Homo sapiens: one gene and its partners. The protein of the gene in region 2 purifies or fractionates together with the protein of the main gene of each other region. This does not show direct contact. Each region holds a gene or a part of one and is shown on either strand. Other genes may lie near its edges.

Region 1 (7,743 bases), on a different chromosome or scaffold from region 2:
GCCTGCGAGGCTGCAGGACCCAGCTCAGTGCTAACCTGCGCCGGGCGCCTACCGCGCGGCCCCCCAGCGGCTGAGATGGGCGTCCCGGGGTGGTTTTCAGCCTGGGGGGCTTGAAAGCTAGCAAAGGGCCCGCAGCCCCGTCAGTGTGGGCGCCCTGGGCGGCCTCTCCTGGCTCCTGGCGGCCGGGCTTGGTCGTGCGTCCCCAGCGACCGCGCAGCGAGCGCCCTGCCGCGGGGACTCGGGCCCCAGGATTCCCGGAGGGGGTGCTGGCGGGCCGCGGCTCAGAGGCGCGTTTGCGTCAGCCCCGGGTTCCAGCAGAGTCACTGCCCGCCCGGGGGCAGCTCGTCCGCCGCGGGGCCTCAGTTTCCCCGTCTGCGCAATGGGGGCGGGGCGGGGCCGCCAGGTGGGGCGGGGCCGGGGGCGGGGCGGGGCGGGGCTCGGGGCCCCCACGGCGCGGGCTCGGGCGGCAGTGGCGGCGGCGCGTGCGCGCCCCGGATCCGGCGGTGAGTGCGGAGCGAGCGGGGCGCGCCGGGGTCGGGGTCCGGTCGCCGCCCGGGCTGGGTCGAGGGCGGGACCCGCGGAGCCCCCGGGGGCGGGGAACCTGGCCGCGCGCGGAGCTGGGGGCGGCTCCGGGACGAGGCAGCGCGACCGCTGGGGCCGGGGGCGGAGCGGGCCGGGGCGCCCGCGGCTGGGTCGGGCCGGGCCGGGAGAATGGGCCCAGCGGCCCCGGGAACCGGCTCCCCCTGCCGGCGGCGGGCGGGCGGGCGGCGCGGCGGGGAGGGCCGGGGTCGCCGCGGCCCCTCGTCCGACCCGGCGCGACTCAGCGCCTCGGGGCCCAGCCTGTGCCGCCTGCTCCGCCCCCCGCGAACCCCGGAGCCAGCAGCGCGGCTGGGAGGGGGCGGCGGGCAGGTCCGTCTCGCTCCGCCTCTGCGCCCTCCCTCGTGGGCCCCGCGGTCCCCAGCCCTGCTCCCGCCGCGAGGGGTCCGCCAGTGCCTGCGGCGCAGCCAGGCCCCTCCCTCTGCGGACCCGGCCTCTCGCGGGTGGGGGCTGCGGGGCTGCTGCCGGGCAGGTGGGGAGGGAGCCCGTGGGCGCTGGGGGCACGGGGACCGGACTGCTGGTCCACCTGGCGCCGCCGCCCCCTCCCCGCCCGGCACCCCTGGGTCGAGGCCGTGGCCCCCCCCGGGGAAATGGGGCTTGCAGCACCGGCTCGGAGAGCACCACGGGCTTCCTCTGGCCTCGGGAAAACATGACTTTCAAAAATTGAGTCTCCACTTAGCACCGCTTCCTGTCCAGGCGACTCTCAGGAATTGTGGGGGGGAGCTGTGCCAATATGTGTGGGGGGCAATGAGGTCTGGGAGATTCGCCTACCCCCAGGCCCGCCCTGGCATCCCCCTGCCCACATCAAGCCGCCGGGCCGCTGCCCTACCTCTTCCTTCCCGGGTCCCACTCCCCAATGTCCCCCGACTTCGAGTCTTGCCTTGAGGTCGCACCAGACCCAGCCCCTAACAGTGTCCTTCATCCAGGGCCCATCCCCAGAGTTAATCTCCAGCCAGCTCTGCCCCCTCGACAAACTCCTGCCCAAAAACTGCTGTGATGCCCCCCCTGCCCCCAAGCTAAGTCCCCACCCCTCAGCTGCCCAGGGCAGCCTCTGCCTAGTTGGCAGCCTCTGCCCTGCCCTCCTCTCTCCAGCGCACAGAGGACTGGAGGCCCAGGAAGGACCCCCAGCCACCCTCCCCGCTGGGACCGGGTGATGCCTTGGCAGTGCCCGTGGGAAGCAGGTGTGGGATCGTGCTCCACACCCAGTGGGGCTGGCCAGCAGCGACTGAGGACAGTGTGACTATTTATAGGACTGGCTGTCAGAGCTGAGGAGGGGCCTCAGAGACCCTATTCTAGTGTGTGAGGAAACTGAATCCCAGAGAAGGGACAGCCTTACCCCAGCCTCTGCCCCGACCCGAAGCCTGGCCTTTCCCTGCGGAGGGCCCTGCAGTGCCTCGGAAGGAACCCACCCAGCCTTTGGGAAGCACCCGTGAGAGGCCCTGGGTGGGACCCTGCAGCATGGCAGGGGCTCGCCAGGTCTCCAGACCCCTGGCTGCGCATAGGACAGAATCCCCATCCCCGGCATTGCCACAGACCATTAATTCTGGGCTCTCATGCTCTCAGGAAGCCTCACCCGGGCCCCTGGCTCCTGCTGCACAGCCAGGAGGGGGTTGGATTCCGGTTCCGGTGACACTGTCGGGGGCTGCTCCTCACCCCCAGGTGTGCACCTGGCACAGCCACTGTCCCAGGATCCCTGGAGGCTGATTGCACACATATCCCAGCCTGGGAAGGACCCCCTCTAAAATGAAGGCCGCCCCTCTGGTGGTCTTAGAATGTGTGCACCCTCCGCACGGTTCCTGCTGGCTTGCAGCTGCTGGCCCACCTGCTGGGGCCGGTTCCACACTCAGATGAGAAATCAAATTCCAGAAGGGCTGAGGCCGGCAGGTCCCTGGTGGGGCTGGATCCCAGCTCTGCCCACGAACACCCCGTTTGCATAGACTGGGGTGCAAACTCACCCCTGCCCTGCTGTGAGGAGGGCCCTGGAACCAGGCAGGACAGGAGAAACGGCCACCCGTAGCTGGAGCCATCCTTCCCGGAGCCTCGGGCAGATGCCCAGCAGGATCCACTCGATTCCTGCACCAAGAGCTCTGGACAGCGTCACCCCCCCTGTGCCCCCAGGCTGTGGCCCCAGCTGTTTGTGCCTGGCGAGGGTCTGGCTAGCTGGAAGAGGGGGCCAGCGGAGGAGAGAGTGGGCGCCACCGTGGGGCTGTCCCACCGGTGGAGGCTCCAGCGGAGATGAGCTGGGCAGGCCTCGCGGAGCAAGTGCAAACTGCACCCGCGTCCTGGGGGCATCTGCGGGGAGACTTAGGGGTCATGCTTTGTGCCCCAGGCCACCCAGAGGAGAAGGCCACCCCGCCTGGAGGCACAGGCCATGAGGGGCTCTCAGGAGGTGCTGCTGATGTGGCTTCTGGTGTTGGCAGTGGGCGGCACAGAGCACGCCTACCGGCCCGGGTGAGCCAAGCCCTAGCCTGGGAGTGCTGGGGTGGGGGGACCGGGAGCCCTCAGCACCTCCTAGAGGCGGCCCTCAGCACCTGTCGGGGACTCCCTGGGGGCTCCTGCTGAGGGTCCTGCCCCGGCCACATGTTCCCATCATTCTTGGGTCCTGCTCTGGGACTCCTGGGCTGACCCCCTCTCCACCCCCGCAGCCGTAGGGTGTGTGCTGTCCGGGCTCACGGGGACCCTGTCTCCGAGTCGTTCGTGCAGCGTGTGTACCAGCCCTTCCTCACCACCTGCGACGGGCACCGGGCCTGCAGCACCTACCGGTGAGTGCCCCACCACACCGAGCTCACCCAGCCCCAGCCTCCCAAGTCGGCCACACATCAGCATGTCAGGGGCGAGGCGGGGGTGAATCCTGGGACCCAAGATGGGAAACTGAGGCCAGAGCCATGAGAGGGCTGCCTGAGATGGGCGACCCAGGGCGGCCGGAGCCAAGGGGTTCCACGATCACCTCCAGTGTCCTAATCCTTGCTCTTGCCCCGACACGTCTCAAAGGACCGCACCTCTAAGAGCATCCCCATGTTTAGAGGGGTCACCCATCCTGTCTGCACCCCTCCACTTCCGGGGGACTAACCCCTCCCTACCCTGGCATCCCTGGCTGCAAGTTCCCATATACACAGAATGGTGCCTGACTCCCCTGGTCCCACTCCACTGGGCACCCCCCTCCACATGACGGCCCCCAGTGGGCACAGATGAGACCCTGAAATGTCCTGTATGCCCACACAAGGGGCACACACCCCTAAGTCTCAGAGTCCTCCTTCCTGGGTGTGGGAGCTCCACCCCCTGCTGGGGGAGGGGCCTGGGAATTCAGACTTCTGGAGGTTTAAGAAGGGCTCCGATGCCCAGGGCCCACACTCTGCCGTGACTCGCCGTAGGCCGGGCACACCCTCTCCTCTGGGCCTGGATGCCCCCACAGTAGGAGACCAGATAGGTGGGGGCACACACAGGCCTGGCCACTGCCTCTGCTCCATGCGGAGTGTGGCTGGGCCTTCCTGCTGTGGCTTGAGTCCCGGCCAGCACCGGAAGGCCCAGGCAGGGAAACGGCTGTGCAGTGACCCCTCAGTGCCATCCCTTGAGGAGAAGACCCTTGGGGGCATGCTGGGGTGACCCTGTGCACTCTGAGAGGGGACTCTAGATGCCCAGCAGGTGACTAAGGGGGAGTAGGATGCCCCTCTGAGCTGTCCCACCCACCCCACAGAACCATCTATAGGACCGCCTACCGCCGCAGCCCTGGGCTGGCCCCTGCCAGGCCTCGCTACGCGTGCTGCCCCGGCTGGAAGAGGACCAGCGGGCTTCCTGGGGCCTGTGGAGCAGGTGAGGGCTATGTCCCTCGGCGCCCGGTGTTAGGAGGGCGACTGTTCCCCAATCTTCCAGCAACGCTCCTGCTGCTTTTCTTGAACCCCGAGCAAAGCACCACCTTGCCGCAGAGCACCCACTCCCTAGCAGCTGCCCCCACAGGGTGCTGGGGACCCAACTGAGCTGGTGACCAGCCTCCCCCGCCCACAGCAATATGCCAGCCGCCATGCCGGAACGGAGGGAGCTGTGTCCAGCCTGGCCGCTGCCGCTGCCCTGCAGGATGGCGGGGTGACACTTGCCAGTCAGGTGAGGCTGGCTCTACCCTGGGGGGCCCTGGAAGGGTCCTGGGCACCTCCTTGCATGTCCTGGGGTTACTGCTGGCCCATGAGTGGGTGGTTGTGAAGGGAGCTGTGTGGGCAGGACCCCTCCCGCAGGCATGGCCGCCTGACACCCCGTTTCCTGCAGATGTGGATGAATGCAGTGCTAGGAGGGGCGGCTGTCCCCAGCGCTGCGTCAACACCGCCGGCAGTTACTGGTGCCAGTGTTGGGAGGGGCACAGCCTGTCTGCAGACGGTACACTCTGTGTGCCCAAGGGAGGGCCCCCCAGGGTGGCCCCCAACCCGACAGGTAAACAGCCCTGGCTGTGCCTGGCCTGGGGAGGCGGGCAGGCAGTGGACATTGCCGTGTGGCTGTTAGGCATGGTGGGGGGCACTGGAATCTGGGCGGAAGGCGGTGGGGACTCCCTCTCCAGGGAGGGAGGATGGGGAGGGAGGATAGGTGGGTTCCCGAGAACTGGGGGCAGGTTGCCCGGAGCCTCATATCAGCCAAGAAGGCAGAAGTGCCCCGTCCCGGGGTCCTGTCTGCATCCAGCGCAGCATTCTGGAAGACGCCACGCCTCCGCTGGCGACGGGACATTATTACTTTTGGTACGCGCTGTGACACTTCAAACTCGTACCGTGAGTAATAATGCGCCGTCCACGGCACCGCATCGAAAACGCCGCTGAGACCTCAGCCTTGACCTCCCTCAGCGTGGCCGGGACCCTGAGCCTCTGCGCAGAGCCACCCGCCCCGACGTACTTAGGCGGCATAGCCCTGAGACCTCTGGCCAGCGCCAGGCAGGCAGCGGGGGCGGCAGAGGCCTGGGCCTGAGTCTTCTGGCTCTGCCTCTCCCTGGGGACAGGAGGGAGCCTGGGGGTGTGGGTGGGGAGCCGGCCGGCCGTGACCCAGCGCCTGGCTCTGCCCGCAGGAGTGGACAGTGCAATGAAGGAAGAAGTGCAGAGGCTGCAGTCCAGGGTGGACCTGCTGGAGGAGGTGAGGCATTGGTGGGGGGGGGGGGGGGCAGGCAGTCCAGGGTGGACCTGCTGGAGGAGGTGAGGTGTGGAGGGGCAGGCAGTCCAGGGTGAACCTGCTGGAGGAGGTGAGGCATCGGGGGGGTAGGCAGGCAGTCCAGGGTGGACCTGCTGGAGGAGGTGAGGCGTCGGGGGGGCAGGCAGTCCAGGGTGGACCTGCTGGAGGAGGTGAGGCGTCGGGGGGGCAGGCAGTCCAGGGTGGACCTGCTGGAGGAGATGAGGCGTCGGGGGGGGAGGCAGGCAGTCCAGGGTGGACCTGCTGGAGGAGGTGAGACGTCGGCAGGGGGCAGGTCTTCACAACAGCAGAGGCCCAGGCCCGGGTACAGGCTCCGTAGTCTCCTGGGACATGGTCCCGACCCACGGATGGCTGGGGGTGGTCTGAAAAGGTCCTGGCCCTGGGGAGGTGGCTTCCTCGCTGCTGACTGCCGAGGGGGCCCTGGCCTGGATCCATGCTGGGCAGAAGCAGCTGGACACTGACCAGGACCCCCCAGGGCCGGAGGAACCAAGCTTGACAGCCCCCCAGACAATACACAGAGCCTGGACCCAGACGAGACCTCCCCACCCCCCCATCTTTGTCCCCACCAGGACAAAGAGCTCTTGCCAGTCTTCCCACTGGCCAGTGGTCCAGCTGTCCCCCTAGTTCTCCTGCCAGGGACCCCAAGGCTGGGACCACCCCGCCAGCCTGATGCCCCAGGCACCCACTCTGCGGCAAGCTTTTCTGCCACGGCAGCCCCCTCTAGTGGACACTTGGAGCCCTGCCGCGGAGGCGGGGGCTGGAGGCTTGTGGAGCCCTTCCCAGGGGTCCTCCCTAGACCCCGGTGGAGCAGAGAGGGCGGGGGCCGGCCCAGGGTCACTGCCCTTCTGCACCCACAGAAGCTGCAGCTGGTGCTGGCCCCACTGCACAGCCTGGCCTCGCAGGCACTGGAGCATGGGCTCCCGGACCCCGGCAGCCTCCTGGTGCACTCCTTCCAGCAGCTCGGCCGCATCGACTCCCTGAGCGAGCAGATTTCCTTCCTGGAGGAGCAGCTGGGGTCCTGTGAGTGCCCCCACCCTCCAGAGCCCTCCTCCCGGGTCTGGGCCCAGTGGGCCTAGAGGGGCTACCCAGGCTTGGGGGTCGGGGGCGACCAAAGGCCAAGGGGCCAGTCAGATCTAGCTGGGCGGGGAGGCTGTGGGGAGCAGTGATCTCTGACCTTCGCCTCATCCAACCCTAGGCTCCTGCAAGAAAGACTCGTGACTGCCCAGCGCCCCAGGCTGGACTGAGCCCCTCACGCCGCCCTGCAGCCCCCATGCCCCTGCCCAACATGCTGGGGGTCCAGAAACCACCTCGGGGTGACTGAGCGGAAGGCCAGGCAGGGCCTTCCTCCTCTTCCTCCTCCCCTTCCTCGGGAGGCTCCCCAGACCCTGGCATGGGATGGGCTGGGATCTTCTCTGTGAATCCACCCCTGGCTACCCCCACCCTGGCTACCCCAACGGCATCCCAAGGCCAGGTGGGCCCTCAGCTGAGGGAAGGTACGAGCTCCCTGCTGGAGCCTGGGACCCATGGCACAGGCCAGGCAGCCCGGAGGCTGGGTGGGGCCTCAGTGGGGGCTGCTGCCTGACCCCCAGCACAATAAAAATGAAACGTGAGCTGCTGTGTCAGTGGATGGACTGGGGGCCTGGGAGGAGGGCGCTCACCTCCTGGCCACCCCTCCCAGACCCACTGCTGGGTGCCAGCTGGCAAAGGGGGCCTGGTGGAGCGGGCAGTCGTGGGGTGGGGAGGGGGTCCAAGGCAGAGGGGGTGGGCAGGTGGTTTCTGTGAGGCCACAGAGAGCTTTGTCCTGGGGACATGTTGGCCCCAACCAGAGGCCAAAGAGCAAATCTCTGGCCTCCTTCCCAGTAGCCTGAGGATCCCGGCACACTTGCCCGTTAGGCGACACCCCCACCCATCGATGGAAGTAGTATAGGGTGATGTGGGTCCACTCCTGGATAGGGAACACGGGTGGGTGGCGGTGCCTGCACCCTGGGC
Region 2 (7,743 bases):
AATCTCCCATGAGACAGTTAACTTCACAGTTCCTGAAGGCACTGTGGATCCACTGAGCAACAGATGTGGCCATTCTAGATTTAAAAAAAGTAGAAAGAAAAACAGTATGAATTTTTAAGCCATTAGTAAATGATCACATTTATTGATTGGTACTTACAAACAAAACTGTATAATTTATTTCTGCATTCCTAAAAATTCAATGGCCCAATCACTTTTCATGACTCTACTATTGCAGACTCAATTATTATGCCCATTGTATTTGTGGGAAGTCATAAACTGGCTTTATTTACTCATTGGCATCCTCTGTATCACATTTGTTCTTTCATTTATTTGCAAAATATGTACTAAGTCTATGTAAGCACTAAGTATATTAATAAATAAAGCAGACATGGTCACTAACCTCACAGAGCAGGGTTTGCAGTTTATCTAGGGAGAAAACTAGTAAGTACCATGCAAACATATAATCAAAAATTGTGAAAAGTGCTAGAAAGGTGCTATGAACTAAATGTTTGCATCCTCTTAAAACCCACATGTTGAAATCCTAATCCCCAGTGTGATGGTATTAGGAGGTAAAGCCTTTGAGAGGTAATTAGTGAATGAGGGTAGAGCACTCATGAATGGGATCAGTGCCCTTACAAAAAGATGAGAACACATGCGTCCTCTCTCTCTATCTACCATGTGATACAATGAGAAATGGCCATCTGCAAACAGGAAGTGTGTCCTTGGAGATACCAGATCTGCCAGGGTCTGGATCTTGGAATGTGAGAAATGAATTTCTCAGCCTCCAAAATTGTGGGGAATGAATTGTCGTTGTTTAAGCCACCCAGTCTATGGTATTCTGTTACAGCAGCCTGAACTGACTAAGACAAAAGGAAATACACTAGGTGGTTGTGTGAGATTAATAAAAGACTAGCTACTTAGTCAATGTCCAGGGTAGACTGTTCTGTGAGGTGATATTTAAACCGAGACCTGGAGACTGCATGAAAAGGTGGCCAAACGCACAGAGGAGAGTTTTGTGTAGTTAAGAAACTGAAAAAAAGCTTTGGGTAAGAATTTTCAGTTAGGGAAGAAAACTGTGGTGATGAAATAGGATAAATAGGCAGGGAAGGGCCAGATATGCATAATTAGTTTTTGATATAAGGTATCAAAACAATATAGTGTTGTACAAAGAAGAAAAACCTTCTATCCTATTCTTTTGATTCCCTGCACTCTTACTTTTCTCAACCAGCTAACTCATAGATAATGTTAATATCGTTTTTAAAACCGTGATGATGATAATATCCCTCCATTCCTTAAGTGTGTACTCTGTGTCAGACACTTTGCCAGGCATTTAAAATACATTATCTAATTTCAACCGCACAGCATTCCCAGTTGGATTCCTATTAATAGTCACACGTTTTAGATTCAGAAACTGAAGATCAGAAAGCTTAAATATCATGTCCAAAATCACACAGCTAGTAAATGGTAGAGCTAGGATTAAAACTCAGGCTAGCCTGACTCTAAAATACATCCTCCATTATATAGTTTCTCTCAGAAAATTGGCTTTTGATGATTGAAATGCATTATACTTTAATATGATAAAAACTGAAAGTGTCTTTGTTTCTATAAAAGGAAACCTGAAAAGATTTTGATAGTCTAGCCTTTGCTAAAGCACACTGATGAGGAAAAAGCCAGTATATATCCAAGAAGAATATTATCAGTTTAACTTATTTGCATCTTTTCTAACTTATTATTAAGCTGAGTTCATATTCTGGCAGTGACAGACTCAACCATTTCTTAGACCCCTAGTGGCATTTTAAAGTTTTGTCATCATATCTCCAGCCCCTAACATATTCCTAGAGACAGAACTGTTCGATTGAGACTTGTAGAACTCAGCTGTGCCCTAGAATCTCCAAGATGCCCCAGGCTGGAACCATCTTTGCCTCTCCTGTCTGACAAAGGCCACTCTGAGGTGCCGGCTCAGAGGCACAGGTTTTCTGACCATAACCAGGTCACACAATCTTTCTTAATTCATTGGCCCAACAAAGTGATGGGTGTACCAGTTCCTGGGAATATCAGCTCCTCAAATTATATGGCTTTGGAGCAGAAATATAATTAGGGAATTTCTGGAGCTTTCCATCACTGAGTATGTGCAATTAGCATTAGAACCCTATGGGGAAGAAACCATTAATATTGCACCCATAAGTATGTCTTAGGAAGGGTTTCTTTGTTTTCTAAAATCTTCCAGGAGTGTGTTGCTTATTCCATATTGGATATGTTCTGCTATAACAGGATTCTACAAACCATATCAATGGCAGCTCCTTAATTAGGGAAGCATGGACAACTAATAAAGCATCCTACTTGGGTTCCAGTTTTACTGATAGCATAGTTTCTTATATAAGACTAACCCTCCTATAGATAACAACTATAAAGTCTGAACAAAATACAAAAATAACAATTGAAAGCAATAGAGAGTGTCAGGCAGACACTACAGCAGTTTCAATCTTTGAAAGAAGGAAAATGTACTGTGTGAGTGTTGTTTTCACTTGGTATTCCCCCTTAGGGCACTCCCCAGTCTGTGCAGCTTGAGATAACTATAAGGAAAGCAGAAAGCCACAATCTCACTGAGGTGTCAGAGGACAGCTTGGGAGTTGTCAGAGTGGCTGGAAATTGAGGGGGAAATATCTATAAAAGAAGAAGTGAATCAGTAAACAAACTCCTTTTAAATCCTTGGCTGATCTTTGAGTTGCAGAAGAGATTCTAAAGAGCAAATCAAGAGAGCCACAGTTTGAAGGTTGAAAGATATGAGAAGAGCTTTCAGATGCTGCTCACTGAAGCAGTGCGTCAGATCTGTGTCCTTCTAAGATATAAAGGATTGATAAACAGTTTAAGTTTTCCTTAGACTTCTATCTCTCACCACCTATAAAAAATCAACTAAAAATGGATTAAAGATTTACATGTAGTATTAATACCTGCAACTATAAAACTACTAGAAGAAAACATAAGACAAATGCTTCAGGACACAGGTCTAGGCAAATATTTTATGAGTGAGACCACAAAAGCACAGGCAACAAAAACAAAAATAGATAAATGAGACTATATCAAACTAAAAAGCTTCTGCACAGCAAAGAAAAAAATCAACAGAATGAAGAGACAACTTGCAGAATGGAAGAAAATATTTGCAAACTATTCATCTGACAAGAGATTCATACCCAGAATGTACAGGGAACTCAAATAACAGCAAAACACTGCAAGTAATCCAATTAAAAATGGGCAAAGGATTTGAACAGATATTGCTGAAAAGAAGTCATACAAATGACCAACACATATATTAAAAATGCTCAACATCACTAATCATCAGGGAAACGCAGGTCAAAACCACAATGAGCTATCATCTCACTCCAGTTAGAACAGCTTTTATTAAAAAGGAACAAATTACAAATGCTGGTGAGGATGCAGAGAAACAGGAACCCTTGTGCACTGTTGGTGGGACTGTAAATTAGTAGAGCCATTATAAAAAACAGTATGAAAGTTTCTCAAAAAACTAAAATAGATCTAACATATGATCCAGCAATCTCACTACTGGGTTTTTACTGAAAGGAAAAAAAAAATCAGTATATTGAAGATATATCTGAACCCCCATGCAGTATTTTTCACAATCACCAAGATATGTAATCAACCTAAATGTCTATCAACAGATGAATGAACAAAGAAAATGTGGCATATATCCACAATGGAATACCATCCAGACATAAGAAGAATGAAATCTTGTCATTTTCAACAACATGGATGAGACTTGGAGGACATTATGTGAAATAAGCCAGGTGCAGAAAGATACATACTACATGTTCTCTCTTATATGTTGGAGCTAAAAAATTCATCTTATAGAAGAAGAATTATGGTGATCAGAAGCTAGGAGGAGTATAGGGGAGAGGAGGATAGGAAGATGTTGGTTAAAGTATACAAAATTACACAGCTAGATAGGAGGAATAAGTTCTAGTGTTCTATAACACTGTAGGATAAATATAATTAATAATAATTTATTGTATATGTTCAGAAATCTAGAAGAAAGGATTTTGAATGTTCCCACCACAAAGTAATAAATGCTTGAGGTAAAAAATACCCTAATTACCCTGATCATTGCATACTGTACATATGTATCAACACTCTGTACCCCCATAAATATGTGCAACCACTATGTGTCAACCAAACATAAAAGGAAAAACCAAATAATCCAAGCTTTCCATTGAAGGCCTAAAAGGGCCATGATTAGGTGTAAAACAATACCTACAGATTAAGAGATTCATGCTAAAACTAAAGGTAAATTTGAAACAGACCCCCCCTAACTGGTGTAAAGCCAACCTCTAATAAGTGCTAGGTTATTGGCTAATAATTTACAACCTGCTAGAACAAAAACAGTCTTCACAAGAAGCCAATGGAACCTATGATCTATAAAACATATCATCCATCATATCCAATATATTATAAAAATTAATAGACGTGAAGAAAAACAGGAAAATGTGGCTCCTAATGAAGAGAAAAAGCAGTGAATGGAAAATGACTCGAAGATGATCCAGATGTTGTAATTAGCAAAGACTGGAAAGTATCTATCATAAATATGCTCAAAAATGTTAAAAGATACAGTCATAATGAATGAATAAATGGTAAAACTTGGCAGAGAAATTAAACTACTAAAAATTAAGTGGAAATTCTGGAACTGAAAAATGCAATATCTGAAATGAAAAGATTCACTGGATGAACCTAATAGCAGATTAGAGATGGCAGAAGAAAAAGCCAGTAAATTTGAAGACAAAGCAATAGAAATTATCCAATCCATAAAACAAAGACAAAAATATTGAAATAAAAATAGAACTTTAGTGACCTTTAGGATAATTAAACCATCTAAGCGAATGTTTAATTGGAGTCTCAGAAAACTATGAGAGAAAAAAATGTGGCAGACAAAATATGTGAAAAAACGATGGCTCAACTTTTCTCAAGTTTGGTGAAATGACATCAACTTAGATATCCAAAAAGCCCAGCAAACACCAAAGAAAATAAAGACCAAAAAAAAAAAAAATTAGACCTAAGTGCATCATAGTCAAACTACTAAAAACAAAGATAGAGAATCATGAAAGGAAAAAGTAGGGGAAAAAAGAAATACTGCATACAAGGGAATAAAAAAACAAATGATCACTGTATCAGAAACAATGGAAACTAGAAAATAATAGAATATCACCTTTAAAGTTCTGGAAACAAATCTGTCAATCCTGAATTCTATGTCCAGTGAAAATATTCTTCAAATATAAAGACACTTTCAGATAAATAAGAGTTGAAAGAACTTGTTACTAGCACACCTGCAATAAGGAAAATGCTAAGGAGTGTTATTCAAGCTGAAGGGAATGTAACCAGATGGAGACTCCAATATGTAAGAAGAAATGAAGAGTACCAGAAATGGTAAATACGGTAGTCTTTCCTTATCTGCAGTTTATCTTTCCACAGTTTCAGTTACCTGTGGTCAACCATGGCCCAAACAAGTGAGTAAAATGTATGATAAAACATTTTGACAGAGAGAGATAGAGAGAGAGACAGAGATCACATTCACATAATTTTTATTACAGTATATTATTATAATTATATTTTATTATTAGTTATTGTTGTCAATCTCTTACTGTGCCAACTTATAAATTAAATTTTATTGTAGGTATGTATAGAAAAAACATAGTATATATAGTGTTTAATAAGGTTCAGTATATTGTGGTTTCAGGCATCCACTTGGAGTCTTGGAACGTATATCCCTTGTGGAAAAAGGAGCTATTACTATATGTGAATAAATATAAAATATACCATTTTTCTTTTCTTAATTTCTTCAAAAGACATAAAACTTATTAAAGCAAAAATAATAACATGGAACTGTAGGATTTATAGTGAACAGAGTTGTAAAATATATTACTGTTTTAGCACAAAAGCTATGGGGATAAAATCATAATGTTGCAAAGTTCTTATATTTTATATGAGTAGTATAATACTATACCTAATTATAATATAATAAGTTAATGATATATATTATAATCCGTAGGACAACAAATACAATAATAATATGAAAAGTTATAGTTTAAAATCCAATAGAACAATTTAGATAAAATAAAAATGTTATTAAAGAAAAAGAAGGCAGGAATGGATAAACAGGTGTATAAAATATAGATAGGACAAATAGAAAACAAATGACAAAATGGTAGTCCTAAATCCATCAGTGTCACAAATTACATTAAATGTAAATAAACAAAACACTTTAATAAAAGACAGATTTTCACACTAGGTGAAAAATAAGAACAATACATTTTCTATTAAAAATGCACTTTAAATATAAAACCGTTGACAGATTGGAAGTAGATGAACAAAACAATATACTATGTGGCTAAATAAATATTAGACAAAATTAATTTCAAGTCAAGAAGCCTTGCTAGAGATAAGGAGGGACATTACATAACAACAAAATGGTCAATTCAACAGAAGATATAAATGAGTACAAGCTGTGTAATTCAATTCATATGAAATTTTATAACAGGCAAAATGAATTTATTACAAAGAAATAAAATTAAGGTTGTCTACTGAAAGTAGGTGTTACCTGAAAGGGGATCCAAAGGTACTCTCTGGAGTGTTGGATATATTCTGTATTTTGATTTATCAAACTCATCAAACTATATACTTAACTGTGAATTTCACTATAATAAATATTAACTTGATAAAAATGAAAATAAAAGTGACTCACTGAAACTCAGTCTGACTACTAGGAATAATAAGCACCTACTATCAAAACTCATTATAAAAAGTAATTATTTTTATATAGTGACACAGTAAAATAAGTTTCCTTAAGACCCTGCTATTTTTGGCTATATTTATTGTTAAAGAAGTCCTTGCCACTCTTCATGCTAACCTTTGAAAATCAAGATTAGAAGACAGTCAACTTTTAATTTTCAGCTACACTTATATTTTTTAATCCTATTACTATTGATATTTCAATATGTTTTAATAGAGTCCATTTCCTTTATTTTCAAGATTTTTGTAGTTAAATAAAGTGAATATGTAATTATACATAATATTTTTTGTTTGTTTTCATTATTATCATGACCAGTACTTTTTTTTATTATACTTTAAGTTTTAGGGTACATGTGCACAACGTGCATAATATTTTTATCTTAATTTTTATTATAAGCATTGTGATTACTTCAACAGCTGAATAATAATATATGATCTTCTAATATGTAATTAGAATATATTATATAAGTATAACACATCATATAATTGCATTGTATACAAAGTTACTATAACTTATTTAACTGTTCTATTGTTGGATATTTTCGTTTCTTCCTTAATTCTGTATGACAATGTTGAGATGGATATTGGCATGTATATAGCTTGTTTTATACTTTGATTATTTCTTTAGGTTAGATTCTCAGACCTGGGATTAAAGAGAACAATATATTTGTGTGTGTATATGGGGGTGCGGATAGTATGTGTTGCATTGTGTATTTTTTAATGATATTAACAGTGCACAAAAATAATAATTCCAGTATATCTCTGTCAGCATTAGAAATTATTAGGAGAAACTTTTTTACTATAGTATGTGAAAATAATTATTTATAATTTTAGTTTACAATTAAGGTTCAATTATTTAAAGGCTCAATGATTTCCTCTTTTATTTTAGTAGGTGTACTTTTTTAGTGAGTTGTTTATTTATCCTTTGCAGATTTATTTATGGGGGAA
Region 3 (7,743 bases), on a different chromosome or scaffold from region 2:
TAGTCCCAGCTACTCAGGTGGCTGAGGCAGGGGAATCGCTTGAACCAGGAGGCGGAGCTTGCAGTGAGCCTAGATTGCGCCACTGCACTCCAGCCTGGGTGACAGAGCGAGACTCCACCTCAAAAAAAAAAAAAAAAAAAAAAGAATGAGGAAATGGAAGGGGCAATGTGAGGGGGAAGCAATAAACTAATTCCCTCTTTTTTAAGAGAGGGGAAGCCAGGCACAGTGGCTCACACCTGTAATCCTAGAACTTTGGGAGGCCAAGGCGGGCAGATCACCTGAGGTCAGGAGTTCAAGACCAGCCTGGCTAACATGGACAAACCCCGTCTCTACTAAAAATACAAAAAAAACTAGCCAGATGTGGTGGCGGGCACCTGTGATTCCAGCTACTTGGGAGGCTGACACAGGAGAATCGTTTGAACCCAGGAGGCGGAGCTTGCAGTGAGCCGAGATCATGCCACCACACTCCAGCCTGGGCAATAGGGCAAGACTCCATCTCAAAAAAAAAAAAAAAAAAAAGAGACGGGAGTAAATATATAGTCTAAAAATTGATAAATATGTGTAGAGATATATATATTATTTGAAATTATAATAATTACCAGTATAACTCCAACAACTATCAACATCACCACAAATAAGATATCTATCTAGTCATACCTTGGGATGTGGAAGTTGTATAAATGTGCTCTATTCATCTTTTCTATCAGTTTGGATATTCTTTAATGATAACATAGCAAGAACATGTGGAAAAATAGCAGAATAAAAATTTTTAAAAAAAAGATAACATAGCAAGAACCAAAGGTATAAGTAAATCCTTTAAAAATATACTAGTGACTACCAGAATTAAAGTCTGAAAACAGAACTATTGACAGCATTTGTTTTTAGGGGGTAAAGGAACTTTACCTTTCTTTTTGTATTCTTATGGATTATTTCAATTTTTTTCTTCACCAAGTGATTCTTATAATTGTTTAAAAACAGTTTAATAAAAAGCAACTATGGTAATATTCATATAGTCATGCTCTATGCAGCAGTTAAAAAGAAATGAGGTAAGACTAGATATATTAATATATGGAAAAATGCCCACAATGTATCTTTAAGTGAAAAAAGCTAATTGCAAGGAAGGAAAATGTAAGGGTTTCTGGCTGGGTGCAGCAGCTCACGCCTGTCATCCCAGCACTCTTGGAGGCCGAGGCAGGCAGATCACCTGAGGTTAGAAGTTCAAGACCAGTCTGGCCAACATGGTAAAACCCCATGTCTACTAAAAATGCAAAAATTAGGCAGACGTGGTGGCGCATGCCTGTAATTCTAGCTACTTGGGAGGCTGAGGCAGGAGAATTGCTTGAACTCAGGAGGTGGAGGCTACTGTGAGCCAAGATGGTGCCACTGCACTCCAGCCTGGGCAAATGAGCAATACTCTGTCTCAATCAACCAATCAATCAATCAATCAAATGTATGGGTTTCAATATCTGGTGTTCTGTGTCTACTTGTGCTAGTGAATATCTGGGCGTGTTTGCATATATGTGTTTATGACAACATTAAATAGTTATTTGCATATGCATAGAAAACATCCAAAAGGTTCACATGAAAATATTTACAATGCCGGCTTCCTCTGTTGAGTGAAAACAGGGACAAATGACATGCCTGGGTGAAAAATGGAGAACATATACTCTATATATCTTGAGAAGAAGCACCTTTGAGAGAATAAATTATCAAATTGTTAGCTTAAAAGTTACTAGTTTATTTTACTAGGATGTTATCAGAGGTTTAATATGTAAACTTACCTTGAAGGGTTCCAAGAAATACAACTACAGCTTAGCTTACATGAGATCTCATGCTGCAAAGACCACTGGCTGAGATTCATAACATCTGGTGCCTCATAGATTCTTACTATACCATCTGCGGAACAGGTTGCTAACATAAGACCCATGTGCTTGGGAGCAAACTTCACATCAGTAACAGATGTTCTGCTATCCACCAGAGTTGTCCTTTTAACCTAAAAAAAAAATAATAACAATTTAAATTATATACAAAAAGAAAGCATGGTAGAGTGGAAAAGACACACAGACTCTGGAATCACACAGAAACTCCTCTATCATTCACTAGGTATATAAGCTTGGATACATCTCTGGGCCACAAGTTCCTACAAGTACATGGCAAAATACCACATATATAGCTGGGAATCACTAACAAATTAGTGAGCTATAATTAATTACTCCCTTTAATGAAAAAAAAGTCTACCTCCAAAAGCCTACCTTTGTTATATAAGTAATCTCTCTTAAGCAAACTGATCACAAAAAAAAAAGAAAATGTTAGAATTTTCAGACAAGAAGTTTTGTCACACAAAGCATGCTGCAAGCATTAGACCCTTTAACTGTAAATGAGTTGGGCGTGATGGCTTACACCTGTAATCCCAAAACTTTGGGAAGCCGAGGCAGGCAGACTGCTTGAGCTCAGGAGTTCAAGACCAGCCTGGGCTACATGGCAAGACACCGTCTCTACTAAAAACTAAAAAAAAAAAAAAGCCAGGTGTGGTGGTGCACGCCTGTGGCCCCAGCTATTCCGGAGGCTGAGGCGGGTGGATCGCTTGAGCCAGTGGGGCAGAAGGTACAGTGAGCAAAGATCGCACCACTGCACTCCAGCCTGGGTGACAGAGTAAGACCCTCTCTCAAAAAAAAAAAAAAAAAAAAAAAAAAGAAAGGCATGCAATTTCTTCTCTCAAGAATAATTTTCTGTTAATCCCATTTGGACCACTATTATTATTATTTTTTTTTTTTTCTTAGGGACAGGGTCTTGCTCTGTCACCCAGGCTGGAGTACAGTACCATGATCATGGCTCAAGTGATCCTTTTGCCTCAGCCTTCCCAGTAGCTGGGATGACAGGCACCTGCCACCATGCCCAGCTAATTTTTCTTATTTTTATAGAGATGGGGGGGTCTCACTATGTTGCCCAGATGGGTCTCAAACTCCTGGCCTCAACTGATCTTCCCACCTCAGCCTCCCGAGTTGCTAGGATTACAGGTGTGAGCCACTGCACCCAGCTACCATGCACTTTTAAGTGAAGGCTTTTAACAGGGACCAAAAGAATGGTAGAAAGCAAGCTTTATGATCACTGTAAAATTCCAACATCACATTTAAAAGTTATCTTCTGGCACACAGATAAGATGAAACTTTACTAAAAACATCAATAAGCTCAGGTGCAGTAGCTCACGCCTGTAATCCCAGCACTTTGGGAGACTGAGGCGGGTGATCACTTGAGGTCAGGAGTTCAAGACCAGCCTGTCCAACATGGTGAAACCCCATCTCTACTAAAAATATTCAAATTAGCCAGACATTGTGGCGGGCGCCTGCAATCCCAGCTACTAGAGAGGCTAAGGCAGGAGAATCGCTTGAGTGTGGTCGGCGGAGGCTGCACTGAGCCGAGATCATGCCACTGCACACCAGGCTGGGTGGCAGTGCAAGACTTTGTCTCAAAAAAAAACTAAGTCAATAAAGTTTAGCAATCAACAGATTACTGTCTATGGTTACCAAAATCCTTCTTAAAGAGTCTCAACATTAAAAGGATAATATTACATAAACTTCAAAGATAACATCTTAGCAAACTTTTGTCTACAGACACCACTGAATAATTAATACAAACACAAATGTTGAGAAAATAAATGCATTTGTTACAGTAGGTAGTCAGACATGAGCAGGGCAGCAGAGGACCCCACCCCACCAGGAATGTCAAGCAACCATCAGGTGATGATCAGGCAGTTGTTAAACTTTCTCTCTAAACTAATCATTGGTTGCAGCCAGTGCCAGGGAAAGGTAGTCTCCCAACAGATAGAAACACCTGAAACTGGTGATCAGCAGCTTCCTGATAAGATCTGAGGAGTTGGATGACTGGGCTCAAGCATGTGCACTAAGAGGAAAAATGGTGGAGCTTAACTGATCTATGACCTTCTAGGAACATTCTGTTAAGGGAAAAACGCCTCAAGTGAGCATCTGCGCAACTCCAGTAAACACACTGCACACGCAGCCCCTCCCAGGCACTAGTGGGCCACTGCACATGCGGACTGCCCACCCCAAGGGAAGAATCAGAGAAGAGACGCAACCCCTGGGAAGCATGCCAACGTGTAACAACCCAAGTCCAAGATCAAACCATGCATTTGACTCTCTCAAGTCACCCACTTGGCCCTCTTCCAAATGTATTTTACTTCATTTCTGCTGTAAAATTTTTTAACAAATTTCCACTCTGGCTCTAAAACTTATCTTAGTCTCTTACTCTGCCTTATGCCCCTAGGTGGAATTCTTTCTTTTGAAGAGGCAAGAAATGAGGCTGCTGCAGACCCATATGGATTTGCCACTGCTAATATATTAATGAAAGATGACTAAACTAAATACAAATAAGTATCTTGAAATTCAAAGAAAAGTCCTTCTTATGCCACCACTCCCAAATCCAATCTATAGTATACTGAACTGACACACCTCAGACTTAACGCCAAAAAAACTTTTATAATTCTATAAATTTCTATTCCTTCCTCCCCATAAGCAGCTGTTTGGCTTAGGGAAGCCCTAGTGCAAAGGCAATCAGACATACTCCTCCCCTGAGAAGAGCTGTAAAACAGTCTGAATAGCCACTCAAGCTACAAAGCTACCGGAATTAAAACAGTGTGCTATTAGGACAAGGAGACATACAGATAAATGTCCACAAGAGAGCCCAGAATGCAATCCTCCATATATATAGCCATTATTTTCAACAAAGGTGTCAAGACCATTCAACAGGGGAAAGAATGGTCTTTTCAAGAAATGGTGCTGGGAAAACTAGATTTCAGCACCCTAACATTTTTTAATGACTGAAATAAATAATTTGTATCAGGCCCTTGCTTGCTTGCGCATGTTAACCACTCACTTTTTGCTGAATATCCCTTGTTGCCACAATATAATGATAAACTGTTGATGTACTGCTTCTTTGTCAATCAAGAGAAGATAACTTCAGCGTCATGTAAAGAAAAATGTTGCCAGAAGAAATGAATGGCTTTAAGGACACTGTGACCAGCTGCTAACAACCAGACATCTGGTTGCTCAAGGCGTTACCTGAGACCAAAGAAACACAGACTTTTCCACTGGATTCTGTGAAACTCCCCCTCCCTTACTAGATCTAGTCACATAAAATCTACCCAATGCTTCCTTTTGTTTAGATGGATTCGAGAGATCTTGCCCTCCCATCTTCTTGCTTTAGCCAAATCGAATAAACCTTTCTCTATCTCCAAGTACCGGTGACTCAGTGTTTGCTCTCAGCTCCACATTGGGGATACAAGCCTGAATTGAGGATTCTATAACAATCTTAGAAGAAAACATTGGGGAAAGTCTTCATGACACTGGATTTGGCAATGCTTTCCTGGATATAACACCAAAAGCATGGGAAACAAAAGAAAAAAATTTAGATAAACTAGACTTCAAAATTTTAAAATTTCGTGCATCAAAGGAAACCATCAAGAGTGAAAAAGGCAACCCACAGAACGGGAGAAAATATTTGCAAATCATTTACAGGTTGTGCATATCAAATCCAAAAATCTGAAATCTGAAATGCTCCAAACTCCAAAACTTTTTGAGCACTGGCATGATGCTCAAAGAAAATGCTTATTGAAGCATACCGAATTTCAAGTTTTTGGATTTAGAATGCTTAACTGGGGCTGGCCACGGTGGCTCACACCTGTAATCCCAGCACTCTGGGGGGCCAAGGTGGAGGATCGCTTGAACCCAGGAGTTCAAGACCAGCCTGGGCAACTCTATTAAGTAAATAAATAAGTAGGCGAATGCTTAACTGGTAAGTATAAATGCAAATATTGCAAAATCCAAAATCCAAAATCCAAAACATTTCTGGATCCTAGCATTATGGATAAGGAATACTCAACCTATAACAGATAAGGGATTAATATCCAGAATATATAAAGAACTCCTATAACAACAAAAAACCCAATTTAAAAAAATGGGCAAAGGATATGAATAGTATTTTCCCCAGGAAGACATACAATTGACCAATAAGCACATGAAAATAAGGTCAACATCAGTAATTATTAGAGAAATGCAAATCAGAACCACAATGGAGATGCCACTTCACAACACAGTCACTAGGATGGCTACAATAAATAGCACCACAACAAGTGCTGATGAAGATTTGGAAAAACTGGAACCCTTGAGCATTGCTGGTAGGAATGTAAAATGGTGTAGCTGCTATGGAAAAGTCTGACAGTTCCTAAAAACGTGAAACATAGAACTACCATATGAGCCAGCAATTCTACTCCTAGGTATATTTCCAAAAGAATCGAAAGCACGGTCTCAAACATTTATCTGTACAACAATGCTCATAGTAGCAGTATTCACAATAGCCACGAAGTAGAAACAACCCAAGGGTCCATCTACAAATGAATGGATAAACAAAATGTGGTATACACACACAATGGAATATTACTCAGCCATAAAAAGGAATAAAGTTAATATATGCTACAAAATGGACAGACCATGAAAACATTTTACTTAGTGAAATAAGCCAGTTGCAAATGGACAAATACTGTGATTCCACTTACATGCAGTACCTAGTCAAATTTATAGACAGACAGTTGAATAGGGGGTAGAGGGAGGAGGAAGGGGGAGGCATTCTTTAAAAATATGGAGTTTATGTTGGCAGTGATGAACAGTTTTGAGTACAGATAACAGTGATGGGTACACAGCACTGTGAACGTAATTAATTCTACTGAATTATACCATTTACAAATAGTTAAAATGGGCCAGGCATGGTGGCTCACGCCTGTAATCCCAGCACTTCAGGAGGCCAAGGCAGGAGAATCATTTGAGATCAGGAGTTCGTGACCAGCCTGACCAACATGGTGAAACCCTGTCTCTTCTAAAAACACAAAAAAATTAGCCAGGCATGGTGGCACATGCCTGTAGTCCCAGCTACTCAGGAGACTGAGGCAGGAAAATCGCTTGAACCCCGGAGGCGGAGAATGCAGTAAGCCGAGATCCCACCACTGCACTCCAGCCTGGGTGACAGAACAAGACTCTGTCTCAAAAAAAAAAAAAAAAAAAAAAAAAAAAAAAAAAAAAGTTAAAATGAGGAATATTATGTTATACATATTTTACCACAATAAAAAATTGCATCATGGCCCTCGTAGTGGCTCACGCCTATAATCACAGCACTTTGGGAGGCCGAGGTGAGAGGATTGCTTCAGTCCAGGAGTTCAAGACCAGCCTGGGCAACATGGTGAAACCCCATCTCTACAAAATAAAAAAATCAGCCTGTGGTGCATGCCTGTGATCCCAGCTACTTGTGGGGCTAAGGTGGGAGGATCACTTGAGCCCAGGAGGTTGAGACTGCAATGAGCTGTGACTGGCTCTAACGTAGTATCATGCCATTAGGGAGGGCAGGTGAGGGGTAATAGCAGGACACTCCCACTACACACTTCCTTTTGTTTCTTTTGAATTTTACACCATGTGCATGATTATCTATTACAAAAAACAAATCATAAAGGGGGAAAAAAAGCATGCAGATGATAATACCTTCATATGAAAATGCTGGAAAGAGTCTTAAATATAATCTAGTTCAATGTTTTCACTTTATAGATGAGGAACTTCAACAGCACACAGATTATATTATGTTCTTGCCCAAATTCAAACATCCAATAAGGCAAAGACAGCGATAAAAGCAGATGTAGATAAAGGAGAGTGTATTTTTTTTTTTTTGAGACGAAGTCTCGCTCTT

What was found. The genes of interacting proteins can lie anywhere in the genome.
Region 1: the proteins of NELL2 (region 2) and EGFL7 purify together in Homo sapiens (affinity purification with mass spectrometry; 2 studies listed by BioGRID and IntAct, with this or other methods). This does not show direct contact.
Region 3: the proteins of NELL2 (region 2) and SEH1L purify together in Homo sapiens (affinity purification with mass spectrometry; 2 studies listed by BioGRID and IntAct, with this or other methods). This does not show direct contact.

The regions. Positions count from the first base shown.
Region 1 is NC_000009.12:136,665,315-136,673,057, forward strand, and holds the end of EGFL7 (epidermal growth factor-like protein 7 precursor), read left to right. Parts: intron 1-453; exon of another isoform or gene 454-503; intron 504-2,926; 5' UTR 2,927-2,968; coding exon 2,969-3,048; intron 3,049-3,242; coding exon 3,243-3,359; intron 3,360-4,291; coding exon 4,292-4,407; intron 4,408-4,599; coding exon 4,600-4,695; intron 4,696-4,854; coding exon 4,855-5,016; intron 5,017-5,287; exon of another isoform or gene 5,288-5,372; intron 5,373-5,635; coding exon 5,636-5,700; intron 5,701-6,611; coding exon 6,612-6,774; intron 6,775-6,949; coding exon 6,950-6,972; 3' UTR 6,973-7,364; downstream 7,365-7,743. UniProt on the Homo sapiens protein: Regulates vascular tubulogenesis in vivo. Inhibits platelet-derived growth factor (PDGF)-BB-induced smooth muscle cell migration and promotes endothelial cell adhesion to the extracellular matrix and angiogenesis.
Region 2 is NC_000012.12:44,508,911-44,516,653, forward strand, and holds part of NELL2 (protein kinase C-binding protein NELL2 isoform b precursor), read right to left. Parts: intron 75-7,743; coding exon 24-74; 3' UTR 1-23. UniProt on the Homo sapiens protein: Plays multiple roles in neural tissues, regulates neuronal proliferation, survival, differentiation, polarization, as well as axon guidance and synaptic functions.
Region 3 is NC_000018.10:12,957,410-12,965,152, reverse strand, and holds part of SEH1L (nucleoporin SEH1), read right to left. Parts: intron 1,994-7,743; coding exon 1,782-1,993; intron 718-1,781; coding exon of another isoform or gene 658-717; intron 1-657. UniProt on the Homo sapiens protein: Component of the Nup107-160 subcomplex of the nuclear pore complex (NPC). The Nup107-160 subcomplex is required for the assembly of a functional NPC.